Linked DNA regions of Homo sapiens: region 1 is linked to region 2. Evidence: fine-mapped expression QTL. Tissue or cell type: whole blood. Region 2 holds a variant in brackets; the other region holds the start of a gene. All regions are shown on one strand. Distances are between the middles of the regions.

Region 1 (8,100 bases), 60 kb before region 2:
GGGAAGACCCCTTGGTTTGCTTTCATTGCTACAGCTTCTTACATTTATTCATTCTATTTTTACCATCTGGAACATAAATAAGGAGAGTCATCCCTGATCCTTTTTGTCTTAACTTGGGTTAGGAAATATAAATGAATTAATCTTTCTGAACTTAACGTGTGTTTTTTAAAAAATCTCTAAAACAAGGGAACAAACTGAAAAGATGGCCTGGTCCCTTCTGTCTTTCTAACTCCACGCTCATGTCTCTCAGAATGTTCTCTGGGTGTTTACTGAAGAGAGGCTTCTCTTCAGTCCTACCGTGCTCATAACCATAAAATATTTAAGGGGGGAAAATGGCCCTAAAAAAGGGAAAAACAAACAGTCAGATGGGAGTGTTCCAGAGAGAGCTCAAAGGGCACATTTTTACCTGCAGAGCAGCCTTTAGACAGCTCAAAAAACCTCTGTCCATGGGGACAGGGTCTCTGGGAGACTCACAGGGACAAAGTGACCCACTCTAGCTCTGACACCACAGCAAGAAGTGCAGAGAGCATCAGCCAGCCTCGAGGACAGTGGCCAGGCTGCAGAAAAAGGAAGCCCAGAGATGAGGACAGGCTGCAGTCCTGTGGCCTGACTGTAGCCACAACTGCCCAGGCCATCCCCAGGTGCCTGGAGCCTGGCAGAGAGGTCAAGAGACCAGGCCCTGCCTTTCTTTGGACTCTGTGGAATGAAATGCACAGGAATGAAATGAATGAAACGAAATCCTCAGCCTAGTACCTCTGGAATCTTTCCATCAAAGTCAGATGCACCGGGAAGGGCTCTTTTGTTTCTATATAGATTTTTGAGTCTATAGCACTATAGCAGAGTATCTAGCACACCACCAGACTTGGCTAATATTAACCAAGCAAGTGCTTACGAGATATTCCCTGATGTAATTTGGCAGAGATGAGTACTGACAAAAAACAATCTGTACATCCCAATAAAGACCACTACCCATCCCAGGGATAAGTGAGAATATGAGAAATGTTAACTTCAGGGAAAAGAAAAATTAATGTCTTCTGCAGAGGTTCTGGTACCTGGTTTATGGAGAAGTCAAGATAGGGGAATTTAAAACTATTAACTCTGTAGTGCAGGAATGGTGCTTGTCATCGAGGCATCAAGAGAACACGGTGTGGGACAGCAACCTCCCTTTCCAGTTGTGTACCTGGCTAGGGAGAAGTAGGGTCCAGAGACAATTAGGGATTACAACAGAACACAGGAGAAGTGAATCTCATATGATGTTGCTTTTCTACTTTCACAAAATAACCTTCCTTCTAAGAATAAAACAGGCAAAAAAAAATCTATCTTTGTTCAATGTAAATACAAGATGGTTCATTAGCAGGTGCCAAACCATGCAATATAGAAAATGCATGCGCTACAAAGACCAGAGAATTGACAGTTCCTTTCCTGGAGATGTTGGAAAAGCCTGATGGAATAGGCAGGACCTGAAAGAGGAGAGGGTCTGGAGAGGTGGATGAGAGAGAACAGTTCAGGTATTGGGGGAATATGGGAAGAACATGGTTACAGACAAGGTGACGGGGCTGATGACGGCATGTGCTGGGGACCGTGATGACATCTATAATCTTGCCCATCTGCCAAACGCAGAACCTCTGAGTTCTTCAACTCTGTGAAAAGTGCATGCATGGAAATTTTTTTTTTGTTTTTTAGAGGCAGCATGAAACAGTGGGATGTGCAGAGAGAAGATCTGGGTCCAGTAGCTCTGACACTCCTCAGCTGTAGAAACCTTGACAACTCTGCACATCAGTTGTACAATGGAACGGTATTTTTTACTCTTCATGTCTGAAAAGGCTATGATAAAGATCAAGTAAGATATTCCAAAGAATTTTTAAATTATAAAGCAGTTTACACATGTGAATTACAAGTACCTCTCCTCCAACAAAGGCTGTGAAAAAAGACTAACTCTCAGTTACTACGGAATACTTAGTACGCATCTTCCACCATCTTTTGATAAGGTTTATTTGCAAGATGTCAGGCCAGTCAAGCACCACAAAAGTGACTTCTGAGTGTTCAACCTCTTTCAGAGGCTCATGGGACTTGCAGAGAATGTCCCAAGGTATTGGTGGTTGGAAATTTCCTCTTATGCTTTTCTTCCCACAAGAATCACCGCTAGCTTTCCCACGATGCTTTGGGCAAGGGGATCCTTCCTATTACTTTCATTACAGGTAGAGAATCCATCCATCAGACTGGCAGGACCTCTAAAGGGGCACTTCATCTGTTTCTCAGAATAAATGGTCCATTCCCAAGTTCAATCAAACGCTATGCCTCTCTTCTGTCTTTTGTTTAAGTCTTCCCAGAAAGTTGCCATGATACCTCCATAATGAACTGTTGCAGTGCTTAACAAACTTCACTGTTGGAAGGTTCTTCCTTCTATTTAATCTCAGTCTATTTCTTTTAACCCTATTATTGAGTTGTGAGGGGCTGGTTATGATGTAGTCCAGCATAGCTGTCTCAGAAATGGTTCAGAGACCATTGCACCAGCAGATTTGCTGGGCTCTAGCACTAGTCCTTCATTGATTAGCTGAGTCATGTTGGGCATATCACTTAAACTTTCTATGCCTCAATTTCCCACCCTTTCACCTTGTCCCTCTGAGCCATGGTTTCCTCCTCTGTAAGAGGCGAATAGCAATATCTTCCCTGGCTAAAGGAGGTCATCGACTGCTGGATGATTTTGTGAGCATTTCTATTCCAGAAGATTATGTTGTAATTACTATTTATTTATACATTCTCCCACTGCACAGTGAGTTCTAAGAAGAGGGAACCCCATCTTTTTCACCTGTCCTCTAGCAGATAGAGCGGTGCCTATCACACAGTCAAGGGAAGCAGAGAATAACTTTAAGCCAAAATTTCCTGTGGTGAGTTTTCCGCAGCCATCCACAATTCCAGGTCTCAGGAGGTAGTCTTTATCTTTTCCCCTCACGCCGATGCCACGGGGCGGGGGGGGAAGGCGGAACTCGGGACCAGGGACCAGGGAAGCTGAGACTCAGCTCCCTTGGGTGAGATTCGCGACAGGCCGGGAACGTGGTCAGCCGCGGTCGCTGCCAAGGTGATATCGGGTGGGAGCAATGACGCAACTCCGGTTTCCACTTCGGCCCCCCGGGATATTTTACCCTAATCTGTGGGATCAGGCTGAGCTTCCTGGCGTTCTGCAGCAGTAACAGGTTGGCGAGCGGAGCCCGGGATTTCCCATTCGTGCGGAGCTAGCCGCCGGTGCCAGTCGGCAGGCGCCCCCCAGCGTCCCGCGGACGACGAAGTCCTGGCCTGGTCAGCCCAGGTGGGGGTGACGCACCTGGCTCAGGCGTCCGCAGCAGGCTGGGTAGAACCACGGCAGGAAGGGTGGGGGGCTGCATCCCCGATTAACACAGGCTGAAGCGGGTATCCGCACCTATAATCATCGACAACTCTGTCCCACAGAGGGCAGAAGCGTGCCTTGCCCTATGGACGACGGTCGATGAAAATTTCACGAGTTAGAGTATCTAAGGCTACAGCGTGGCCTATAGGGTGGTTGATTCCAAGTCAAGATGGTTGCAGCGCCAACGGAGCTCCTGGCAAGAGAGGACTGGACCTGTGGGCGGGGCGGAGGGGCGGGGCGGGGCCGGGGCGGGGCCTGACCGAGAGGCGGGGCCAGGTGCTGGGCTGTCTCTGCTTGTCAAAAGGCGGCAGCGGAGCCGTGTGCGCCGGGAGCGCGGAACAGCTTGTCCACCCGCCGGCCGGACCAGGTGCGAACCCGGGAGCAGCGGGAAAGGGGGTCTCAGGATAGGGACTCGGGGTCGGGGCGTCTGGGATACCGGGGCCTGAGCGCCCGGCTGCGAGCATTAGAGTCTAAGTCTCAGCGGTAAACTTGGCTACTGAGGTCCGGGCTGTCGTGCCATGAGGCTGGGACACTAAGGGGCACTGAGGTTTGAGAAAGCTGAAGTTCGTGCCAGGCTGGCGAGGGGAGCAGCGACATCCTCGGCGCTTAGGAGAAATGCTCCGCTAACACAGTGCTTAGCACTTGGGCAACAAGAAGTATTTGTTTCCTTCTTCTGTCGGGGCGCCTTGGCATGGAGTGGAGGAATAAGAAAAGGAGCGATTGGCTGTCGATGGTGCTCAGAACTGCTGGAGTGGAGGGTGTGTAACCTTATTTATTGTCTTACAGGGCCCAGGTATGGTCACCTGTGATGGTGGAGTTGGGTCTTTTAAGTAATTTTTTTTTTTTTTTTTTTTTTTTTACTTTTCTTTGAACTACCAATGAGTTTAGACCTAATTGGCCCTATTTTTTTTCAGGACAGCCTGTCAATAGATGTTCAGAGGAACTCAGGGGCAAGCATTTAAATGAGGAAGGGGCTCAAGGAGTAGTTTCTGTTTGAAAAGTGAGGTGCCCTGGATCTGTGGGTGGTGGTGAGGAAGATTCAGAAGTATCTAGGAGGGAACAGCCTGTGGTCTCCAGGGCCAGTGTACAACTGCCCCTCCTTCTCTTCACCCAGGGACCAGAGTCTGAGACCTAGCCTGGGCTGGGGGAGCCTTAGGTCTCCAAGCCCAGACCCTTCTCACAGTTCCTCCTCCTTCTCCTCCTCCTCCTCCTCCTCCTCTTGTTCCTCCTCCTCCTCTATGCGTGCGGTGAGTGAGTCAGCCTCCTGTCTGGGCTCAGTTGCAGCCAAAGGGGCCAGAGCCCAGGCAAGCAGTTGGGCAGGCATTTTCTGAGCATTGCAGAAGCTCTCCTGGGCAGAGTTCAGCTCTGCTCCAGCTCCCTGCTGGAAGGTGGTCTTCCTCATGGGCAGGGGCTCAGATACCCAACACAGCAGTGCTTATGGAATGGCTATGAGATGATTCTAGCAGGAGGTGACCGTGAAGGGATAGTGGCTTTATGATAAATCTACATCTCATCTTTCTCCTGGGATAAGGAGGTGCATCCCAGCACTGCAGGCTTTTCCAGCCCTTCCTTCCATTTCTGCCTAGTGGTCTCATTAGCAGCCCATCTCTGCTAGTGAAGGGGGTGAGCAAAAGAAATTAGGAAAGTCTGGGGCCAGAGAAGTCATGGTGTTGGCAAAGAAGGCTTTAACTCAGGCTAGGGAGTGAGGGTGATTTGCTGAGGTAGAAATGGGTTATCTGAACATTGGAGCCTCAATTCTATGGACTAAGAGTGTTGTGTGTTGAGAGACCTGCCGTCCCTTCCCTGTCCAAGTGCTGGAGGGAACTGTGAGTCTTTCTGAAACAGTCTCAGGGCTGGCATGCAGCCAGACCAGAAGGTAGTAAGACTGCACATTTCTCCCTGGCTTTTGTTTTGGGTGCTAGAGATCGTTGAACAGAAGTAGCCCTCCCTGCAGAGTCCGTGGCCCCCACTCAGCAGCCTCTCTGGACCTATTTGAGAAGAGTCCTGGGAGGCCAATCCAGCTGTGGGGCTGACTCAAACTGCAAAAAGCTGGGGAATTCACAGTCTATGCTCTGGCTGGGTCCCATGGCTTTGGGTTTGGCTGGTCTTGATCAGCTGTGACTTGGACCCTTACCAAGCTAAAGGAGGGACTAGAAAATGGGGTAAGAAAGGAGGGGAAAAAATGAGAGTTAGAAAGCCTTCCCAACCCTTTACTCCTCTTCGGCAGAGGCCATCAGACTTTGTTTGTATAAACATTATGGAAGGTCGGGTGCTGTTTGGGGTGCCCTGATAGTTTGTGTTTATGGTTTCTCAGTATTCTTCCCCTATTTGACCTCAAAACTGATCTCTTTTGTAACTAAGCCCCAGAGGAAGCTCCGAGAGGACCTCCTGAACCCCTACACTCTACCCCCAGAACAGATAGCAGGTGTCCAAAGCCCAGGCTGTGAATGGAGAAAGGCCTGGGACCGAGTGGGCTACATCAGGTGGCTACTACATCAGGTGGTTATCTAAGACACGAAAGGGAGTTCCCATTGTTTCATTCCTTACCCCACATCCTAAGGAGGCACCGCTGTCCTGGCTGGAATAGGCATCTGGAACCTCTGCTAGAAACTCGCTGTTGCCTGTGCAGCAGTCAGGTCCTAGGGGCCAGAGAGCCAGAGACGGGAGGACCACCTAGATGACATTTGGTGTGTTGCTGAATAAAGAATTACAGGGCTCCAGCTTCCATTTGTCCCTGCTGCAATTCTGTTTTGGATGCAGGTAGAGGGAAATAAGGAATTGACCAGATTTGATTAAGAGCCTCTTGTGTGCCCAGCATGACTCCAGGCCCTCTGAGGGATAGCAGGAAGCAGAACCCACCAGACCAGGCCCCTGACTCCAAGACAGTTTGAGCCCCAGGGTGGGCAGCAGTTCTCAGGCTCTCCCTCCACTATTGTCCAGTTCTGAGAGGATCCAGCTGGGCTGAAGCCAGCCTGGCTGCCACTCTGGGCCACCAAGGCCTTGCTTGTCATTTTGCTTCCCTCTGATTTGTCCCTAACCTTTTCCTGTGTCAGTGCCCTCCTAGATATGCTAGAAAGAGTGCCTGTGTAATGTATCTTGCAAACTGGGATACTTCTGAGAGTGAAAGGGGATGCCATGCATGGTTATACCAGGACAATGGACATAAACCCAAACTTTCCAGGGAAAAATGGAATATTAATCACCCTAGTGATCATCACTCCAAACTCAGCAGAGGTCACAGCAGTGATGAGGGGATGATAAGGTTGGGGGAGGCTTAATGCTCAAGGGAAAACAGGGGTAGCTTAATTCTGAGGACAGCCCCCGACACCCTAGCCTGCTCCCTGGTGTTATCAGCCAATTCTCGTCTTTTCCCTGGGGCGGCACTGCTCCCGGCCACCCTGTCCTGGGACCCAGCCCACCACTCGTGTGACTTCCCTTCACCCTTGACTTGTGACTGGCCTCACCTTTGGTTTTCCTGCCCCACCCCAACCTCAGACAGGGACAGGAAGGTCTGCCAACTCCTCTTCAGCTTCCCCTGGGGAAATTGGGGTTCATAGTGGAGCCAAGACTGGGCCTCACGTTTCCTCTTCCCTCTTCCTCCATATCTACAGCCTCCACATTTTGCTCATCCAGCTTCCCAGACCTCTGGGGACCACACTATCCCACAGAAAGTCTGGCTGTAAAGCAGGTAAGCAGCCAGGAAGGCAAGGGTAGGCAAACCTCGCCCACTCTGATAAAGGACATAGGTCACCTATAATCAGGTTCCGGGGAAATGAAAAGCAAAGTGGAGGCCAAAGCCAGGGAGAAGCTGCATTGCAGGAGACAGAGTCAGTTCCCAAAGACACTAGAGTTTGCCTCTTTGGTCTGGTCTGACTATTGGGGAAATGGTCCAGGGTGGGGAGAGGCTGTTCTTGCTCAATCCAAGTGACAGGCGTTGATGGCAGTGCCTGCATCCCGCTGTGGCGACATGTGGAAGAGAAACTGTCCTGCCTTCTGGGTCCTGGGTCCTCATGGTCCAGATGCAAAGGGTGGGATCCCCAGAGGTCCAGCCTGTGGGTGATCGGGCATAGGCGTGGAGGGAGCAGAGCCGCCACGATGACCATGTAGTGACTCTCAGTTACTCTGCCAGGAAGGAAGTCATTCTCACTGCCAACAAATGAAAAGTGCAAGTGAAGATCTCTTGGGAAGTCATGTCTTTGAAGTGACTTGTGGGCAAGGGGGGTAGGTGGTGAGACCGCCCCACCCCAAGGCTGGCTGGGAGAGGATGGGGGTGTCTGGTTGGTGAATAGCAGGAGTGGAAGGCAGAAGCAGTCAGTACTCTGTGAGTTGGAATGTGTGTCATGCTTTTGCAAACCTGCCCTGCAGGTCCTGTGCCAGGGAATAGACTAAGTGGTGTTCCCAGAACCAGATGCCATACAAAGTCCTCATTCTGCACAGGGGAGAGTCCTGGTCCTAAGCAGGGTGTGGGCAGCTGCACCGGCGGGAAAGCGGAGTCTGTGCAGACTCGGCAGTTGGTTCCTGAGAAGCTGCTGCCTCTCACTGGCCTTCTGATGACAACCTGGAGCTTGGAGGTGTTATGCAAGGTGGGACATTCCAGGCACTGTGGAATACCCATGAGGCCCGAGGCTTTGCTGGTGACACATCCAGTGTGTGCCACCTGCTGGTACTGGAGTTGTAGCTTCAGCTACTTACTGAGCACTCACTTGGTAACAGGT
Region 2 (8,100 bases):
AATTAGCTGAGTGTGGTGGCAGGTGCCTCTAATCCCAGCTACTCAGGAGGCTGAGGTAGGAGAATTGCTTGAACCTGGGAGGTGGAGGTTGCAGTGAGCCAAGATCTCACCACTGCACTCCAGCCTGGGCAACAGAGCAAGACTCTGTCTCAAAAAAAAAAAAAAAAAAAAAAAAAAAAAGGAGTAGAAAACAAGCATGTAAAGAGCAGAACTGGAGGAGACGGGCAAAATAAGAGCACCAGCAATGTTCAAGGCATCACAATGACATGGCCCTAACTGTGCTAAAGAGTCAGAAGGTGCGGGGCTCCAGTGGAAAACACAGTGGATTCAGGACCAGAAAAACAAAATGGAGAATTAGAAGGGTATTCCTGGCTGGAGCTGTAGTATGCTGAAAGGCGTGGTGATGGCTGGGTGCAGTGGCTCACACCTGTAACCCTGGTTCTTTGAGAGGCCAAGATGAGAGGATCACTTGAGGCCAGGAATTTGAGACCAGCCTGGGCCACATAGTGAGACACCATCCCTACAAAAAAAATTTAAAAATTAGCTAGGCGTACACCTGTAATCCCAGCACTTTGGGAAGCCTAGGCAGGCAGATCACAAGGTCAGGAGATCGAGACCATCCTGGCTAACACTGTGAAACCTCGTCTCTACTAAAAATACAAAAAAAAATTAGCTGGCCATGGTGGCGGGCACCTGTAGTCCCAGCTACTCGGGAGGCTGAGGCAGGAGAATGGCGTGAACCTGGGAGGCGAAGCTTGCAGTGAGCCGAGATCGCGCCACTGCACTCCAGCCTGGGCGACAAAGTGAGACTCCGTCTCAAAAAAAATTAGCTAGGCGTGATGGTGTGCACCTGTAGTCCCAGCTACTTAGGAGGCTGAGGCAGGAGGACTGCTTGAGCCCAGGAGTTTGAGGCTGCAGTAAGCCATAATCATTCTGTTGCACTCCAGCTTGTGTGACAGAACAGGACACTGTCTCTAAAAATACTAATAAAAGAAATTAGCTGAGCATGGTGGCGCATGCTTGTAGTCTTAGCTATTCGGAAGGCTGAGGTGGGAGACTCACTTGAGCCCAGGAGTTTGAGGCTGTAGCATGCTATGATCATAACACTGCACTCCAGCCTCAGCAACAGAGTGAGATCCTGTCACAAGAAAAAAAAAAGGCACAGTGAGAACACACAGCATCTGAATGTGGAGTGGCATGATGCTGCTAGAATGGAAGGTTGGTGGAGTTTACCATGGGAAAGGGAGTTGGAATGAGAGGTTGGAGCCAAGTTAGGGAGTGTGGGCCTGATCCTAGGGTGTTTGAGAGTCAGTGAAGATTTCTGAGTGCAAGAGGACATTGACCTGCAGCAGTGGTAAGAAAGATGAATGAGAGACTGGAGAGACACAAGTCTGGGATTCCTGTAAGAGGCTATTGGAAAAGACGCTGGAGCTCTGAACCAGGGCACTCCTGGTAGGAGTGGGAATAAGATCACGGGCTTGAGAGACATCCTAGAGACAGAGTTGGCTGAATTTACTACTGAGAAGGACTGGAGGACAGTAGGAGGGAGAGGAGGAGAAAACTTGGGTGTTGTTGAAGATACCATGGCCCTACCTTTTGCAGACCACCATATTCATGCCTCAATGCTGGGAACTTCCCTGGGCTCCGTTTCCTGTGCCCCATAGCTCTGGCTGCTTGGTCTCTGAGTTTTTCTTGTCTTAGTAACTGAGCTACTTCACTTCTGGCCTTGGCACATGATCACAGTGTTGAACTGTTCTCTCTCAAGGAACACTCTTGTCCCTTCCAGCCAGCCTGCAAGCTCCTCGATGAAAGACCCAGGGTGCATGTTGGTGCCCAGCAGGTGTATACCTGTCAAAGCACTAAACTGATTTGTGTGGCTTGAAGGCGTTTACTGGTAACCTGACCTCCTTCCCTCCCTCCCCTGCAGAGACCTCACCTCTGAGGACCAGATCGTACTGCTGAAGTCAAGTGCCATTGAGGTCATCATGTTGCGCTCCAATGAGTCCTTCACCATGGACGACATGTCCTGGACCTGTGGCAACCAAGACTACAAGTACCGCGTCAGTGACGTGACCAAAGGTATGCCTAGACTCCACCTCCTGGGGAGTCTTTTTCAGCTCCCAGATTCTGGCTCCACCCGTCCTGGGGTTTGGCTCCAATCAGATACATGGGAGGGAGTTAGGCACCAACAGGGAGAGAAGGGCGAGGGTCAGACCCATGGGGTTGGAGGTGGGTGGGCGGCTCCTCAGCTCTGCCCGCAGTACCTGGCCATTGTCTCTCACAGCCGGACACAGCCTGGAGCTGATTGAGCCCCTCATCAAGTTCCAGGTGGGACTGAAGAAGCTGAACTTGCATGAGGAGGAGCATGTCCTGCTCATGGCCATCTGCATCGTCTCCCCAGGTATGGGGCCAGGCAGGGAGGAGCTCAGGGACCTGGGGAGCGGGGAGTATGAAGGACAAAGACCTGCTGAGGGCCAGCTGGGCAACCTGAAGGGAGACGTAGCAAAAGGAGACACAGATAAGGAAATACCTACTTTGCTGGTTTGCAGAGCCCCTGTGGTGTGTGGACGCTGAGGTGCCCCTCACTGCCCTTAGCTCTGCCTTGCAGAGTGTGCAGGCGATTCGTAGGGGGGATTCTGAGGAACTAGATAAGCAGGGTTCCTGGGGCCACAGACAGGCCTGCGCATTCCCAATACTCAGGCTCTGCTCTTGCGTGAACTGGGCTCAACATTCCTGTTATTTGAGGTTTCTTGCGGGCAGGGTACAAAACTTTGGAGCCTGAGAGATGGTTCTGCCTATATAGTTTACCTGATTGATTTTGGAGGCAATGTGCAGTGACCCTTGACCTCTTCCGCTGGTTAGAGGTGAGAAGAGGGAGAAAAGGCCGAAGAGGAAGTTATTGTGACCTTGGGGACATGATGTCGGTGATGAGGTCCAAAGAGGGGCGGCCCTGCCTCAGCCTGTGCTAGTGGCCTGTGCCCAGGGATGCTTTCCTGGACTGGAGGCTCAAGGAATGGAGATGGGCTCCTCTACCCCTGCCCAGCCAGCCTTCTCTCATTCATTCATCCACTTAGCAACAATTTATTGAGCACCTATTAGGTACCAGGCACTATGCTAGGTACTGGGGTTCAGCAGCAAATGGGACACAGGCTCCTCTCCCATGAAGCTTAGGAGGAAACATTAAACAAATGTTATTTAATTATTAATTCCTAACAAGGCAAGAGTTTTAAAAATAAAGTAAGTGATGCTACAGAAGGGTAGAATAGAAGGAGGGAAGCTGACGTGGTCTGGGCTACAGAGGTAGAGTGTTGCCAGGAATGGCCTTTTGGAGGAAGACCTTTTAAGCTGTTATCCAAAGGATCAGTAAGAGTCTGGCAAAGATAGCAGAGCAGAGTTCCAAGCAGAGGGAGCACAGATGTGAAGGCTGGTGGCCAGAGAGCATGGCGCATCGGGACGCTGAGGGATGGACAGAGCATGGACAGGGAGCAAGGCCAGGCAGGGACAGGGCCAGGTGCGCCCATGGAAGGACCTAGGTCTGGATCCTAAATGCACGGAGAAGTCACTGGAGGGCTTTGGGGCCAGGCAGTGGTATCACCGGTCAGCAGTCATAGAGGGGTGGCCTAGGGGGTGCTGCCGTTGAGTGTCTGTGTGGGTGGGGGGTGGTGGGATTGAGCAGTGAGGGGCCCAGCTGAGAGCTCCTGTGCCTTCTTCTCTATCCCCGTGCCCACAGATCGTCCTGGGGTGCAGGACGCCGCGCTGAT[T/C]GAGGCCATCCAGGACCGCCTGTCCAACACACTGCAGACGTACATCCGCTGCCGCCACCCGCCCCCGGGCAGCCACCTGCTCTATGCCAAGATGATCCAGAAGCTAGCCGACCTGCGCAGCCTCAATGAGGAGCACTCCAAGCAGTACCGCTGCCTCTCCTTCCAGCCTGAGTGCAGCATGAAGCTAACGCCCCTTGTGCTCGAAGTGTTTGGCAATGAGATCTCCTGACTAGGACAGCCTGTGGCGGTGCCTGGGTGGGGCTGCTCCTCCAGGGCCACGTGCCAGGCCCGGGGCTGGCGGCTACTCAGCAGCCCTCCTCACCCCGTCTGGGGTTCAGCCCCTCCTCTGCCACCTCCCCTATCCACCCAGCCCATTCTCTCTCCTGTCCAACCTAACCCCTTTCCTGCGGGCTTTTCCCCGGTCCCTTGAGACCTCAGCCATGAGGAGTTGCTGTTTGTTTGACAAAGAAACCCAAGTGGGGGCAGAGGGCAGAGGCTGGAGGCAGGGCCTTGCCCAGAGATGCCTCCACCGCTGCCTAAGTGGCTGCTGACTGATGTTGAGGGAACAGACAGGAGAAATGCATCCATTCCTCAGGGACAGAGACACCTGCACCTCCCCCCACTGCAGGCCCCGCTTGTCCAGCGCCTAGTGGGGTCTCCCTCTCCTGCCTACTCACGATAAATAATCGGCCCACAGCTCCCACCCCACCCCCTTCAGTGCCCACCAACATCCCATTGCCCTGGTTATATTCTCACGGGCAGTAGCTGTGGTGAGGTGGGTTTTCTTCCCATCACTGGAGCACCAGGCACGAACCCACCTGCTGAGAGACCCAAGGAGGAAAAACAGACAAAAACAGCCTCACAGAAGAATATGACAGCTGTCCCTGTCACCAAGCTCACAGTTCCTCGCCCTGGGTCTAAGGGGTTGGTTGAGGTGGAAGCCCTCCTTCCACGGATCCATGTAGCAGGACTGAATTGTCCCCAGTTTGCAGAAAAGCACCTGCCGACCTCGTCCTCCCCCTGCCAGTGCCTTACCTCCTGCCCAGGAGAGCCAGCCCTCCCTGTCCTCCTCGGATCACCGAGAGTAGCCGAGAGCCTGCTCCCCCACCCCCTCCCCAGGGGAGAGGGTCTGGAGAAGCAGTGAGCCGCATCTTCTCCATCTGGCAGGGTGGGATGGAGGAGAAGAATTTTCAGACCCCAGCGGCTGAGTCATGATCTCCCTGCCGCCTCAATGTGGTTGCAAGGCCGCTGTTCACCCACAGGGCTAAGAGCTAGCGCTGCCGCACCCCAGAGTGTGGGAAGGGAGAGCGGGGCAGTCTCGGGTGGCTAGTCAGAGAGAGTGTTTGGGGGTTCCGTGATGTAGGGTAAGGTGCCTTCTTATTCTCACTCCACCACCCAAAAGTCAAAAGGTGCCTGTGAGGCAGGGGCGGAGTGATACAACTTCAAGTGCATGCTCTCTGCAGCCAGCCCAGCCCAGCTGGTGGGAAGCGTCTGTCCGTTTACTCCAAGGTGGGGTCTTTGTGAGAGTGAGCTGTAGGTGTGCGGGACCGGTACAGAAAGGCGTTCTTCGAGGTGGATCACAGAGGCTTCTTCAGATCAGTGCTTGAGTTTGGGGAATGCGGCCGCATTCCCTGAGTCACCAGGAATGTTAAAGTCAGTGGGAACGTGACTGCCCCAACTCCTGGAAGCTGTGTCCTTGCACCTGCATCCGTAGTTCCCTGAAAACCCAGAGAGGAATCAGACTTCACACTGCAAGAGCCTTGGTGTCCACCTGGCCCCATGTCTCTCAGAATTCTTCAGGTGGAAAAACATCTGAAAGCCACGTTCCTTACTGCAGAATAGCATATATATCGCTTAATCTTAAATTTATTAGATATGAGTTGTTTTCAGACTCAGACTCCATTTGTATTATAGTCTAATATACAGGGTAGCAGGTACCACTGATTTGGAGATATTTATGGGGGGAGAACTTACATTGTGAAACTTCTGTACATTAATTATTATTGCTGTTGTTATTTTACAAGGGTCTAGGGAGAGACCCTTGTTTGATTTTAGCTGCAGAACGTATTGGTCCAGCTTGCTCTTCAGTGGGAGAAAACACTTGTAAGTTGCTAAACGAGTCAATCCCCTCATTCAGGAAAACTGACAGAGGAGGGCGTGACTCACCCAAGCATATATAACTAGCTAGAAGTGGGCCAGGACAGGCCCGGCGCGGTGGCTCACGCCTGTAATCCCAGCAGTTTGGGAGGTCGAGGTAGGTGGATCACCTGAGGTCGGGAGTTCGAGACCAACCTGACCAACATGGAGAAACCCTGTCTCTATTAAAAATACAAAAAAAAAAAAAAAAAAAATAGCCGGGCATGGTGGCGCAAGCCTGTAATCCCAGCTACTCAGGAGGCTGAGGCAGAAGAATTGAACCCAGGAGGTGGAGGTTGCAGTGAGCTGAGATCGTGCCGTTACTCTCCAACCTGGACAACAAGAGCGAAACTCCGTCTTAGAAGTGGACCAGGACAGGACCAGATTTTGGAGTCATGGTCCGGTGTCCTTTTCACTACACCATGTTTGAGCTCAGACCCCCACTCTCATTCCCCAGGTGGCTGACCCAGTCCCTGGGGGAAGCCCTGGATTTCAGAAAGAGCAAGTCTGGATCTGGGACCCTTTCCTTCCTTCCCTGGCTTGTAACTCCACCAACCCATCAGAAGGAGAAGGAAGGAGACTCACCTCTGCCTCAATGTGAATCAGACCCTACCCCACCACGATGTGGCCCTGGCCTGCTGGGCTCTCCACCTCAGCCTTGGATAATGCTGTTGCCTCATCTATAACATGCATTTGTCTTTGTAATGTCACCACCTTCCCAGCTCTCCCTCTGGCCCTGCCTTCTTCGGGGAACTCCTGGAAATATCAGTTACTCAGCCCTGGGCCCCACCACCTAGGCCACTCCTCCAAAGGAAGTCTAGGAGCTGGGAGGAAAAGAAAAGAGGGGAAAATGAGTTTTTATGGGGCTGAACGGGGAGAAAAGGTCATCATCGATTCTACTTTAGAATGAGAGTGTGAAATAGACATTTGTAAATGTAAAACTTTTAAGGTATATCATTATAACTGAAGGAGAAGGTGCCCCAAAATGCAAGATTTTCCACAAGATTCCCAGAGACAGGAAAATCCTCTGGCTGGCTAACTGGAAGCATGTAGGAGAATCCAAGCGAGGTCAACAGAGAAGGCAGGAATGTGTGGCAGATTTAGTGAAAGCTAGAGATATGGCAGCGAAAGGATGTAAACAGTGCCTGCTGAATGATTTCCAAAGAGAAAAAAAGTTTGCCAGAAGTTTGTCAAGTCAACCAATGTAGAAAGCTTTGCTTATGGTAATAAAAATGGCTCATACTTATATAGCACTTACTTTGTTGCAAGTACTGCTGTAAATAAATGCTTTATGCAAACCAATTTGCCTTATCCTTATAAGGACCTTATGGGAGATGAATCATTATTACCCCCATTTGACAGAAAGGATAGCTTGAGCAATGCCACACTAGCAAGGGATGGGATTTGAACCTTCAGCAGCTAGGTTCAGAAGCCACAAATTAACTGCTACATTGTCCTGCTTCCTATTGAGTTGGGGGACCTGACAGACGACTGATGGTCTTGCTAGCTCTCTCCTAGAGAGGAGATAAAAGAGGTTCCCATTCCTAAAGCAGGCCCTGAGCCAGGAAAATTAGAGGTGCTGGACCAAACTGTGCTCTACTCCCAGGAAGTGTGCAGTCAATATATGACACCTACGTGAGACCCTCAAAAATGAAAACCAAACAGCTACTGGCAAAACTGTGTCTGCCATTAGAGATGGCGGCTGTGCCAGTGACCTGGAGGATTACAAATGACTGCTGTGCAGAAACAGGACTCCTAAGGGGCCCAACTTATGCCGATGCACTCCATTCTGCTTCCCAAGGAAGTGGGGTTTATGATGAAGGGTAGCATTGCTAGGCACAGTAAACAAGAACACAGCATTGTGATCTGAAAATAAGGAAATCATGCCAGCTAATGTATTGATTGAGGATAAGTTGGCCTGGGGATGTGATTCACTCTAATTTTTCAGAAACATCTGAAAATATTTCAAACCAAAGGCTAAAATGTGTTTCAGTGGGATGAGATGGACTTAGGGGAATTGGGGTTAGAACTTGAGGGTTATTTTGTGAAACATGAAGGGACTTAGAGAAAGGAAATCAACAGCTGCATAAATGGGCATGTCTCTGGCTGGAGAAATGTGGAGAATGGAGTTCTGATACACTGTTAGAAGGATCTTATGTAGCATTTTTATAGCTGACCTAGAAGAACACAAAATTTCCAAGGC

Evidence for each region. PIP is the estimated chance that this variant, and not a neighbour inherited with it, causes the effect.
Region 1: it holds the start of VDR, and the variant in region 2 is fine-mapped to the expression of VDR in whole blood (INTERVAL, PIP above 0.99).

What each region holds. Positions count from the first base shown.
Region 1 is chr12:47,900,607-47,908,706 of GRCh38, reverse strand. It overlaps VDR (vitamin D receptor), which reads left to right and starts at 3,713. Exons shown (of 10, transcript NM_000376.3): 1 at 3,713-3,752. RefSeq lists a silencer at 3,591-3,720 and an enhancer at 5,104-5,303.
Region 2 is chr12:47,840,636-47,848,735 of GRCh38, reverse strand. It overlaps VDR (vitamin D receptor), which reads left to right. Exons shown (of 10, transcript NM_000376.3): 8 at 1,928-2,079; 9 at 2,285-2,401; 10 at 3,731-7,199. The coding sequence ends at 3,990. Among named protein-coding and RNA genes, the nearest start is that of LINC02354, 16 kb to the right of the region's middle. RefSeq lists enhancers at 2,355-2,856, 4,381-4,953, 4,954-5,527. The variant T/C (reference allele first, on the strand shown) is at 3,762.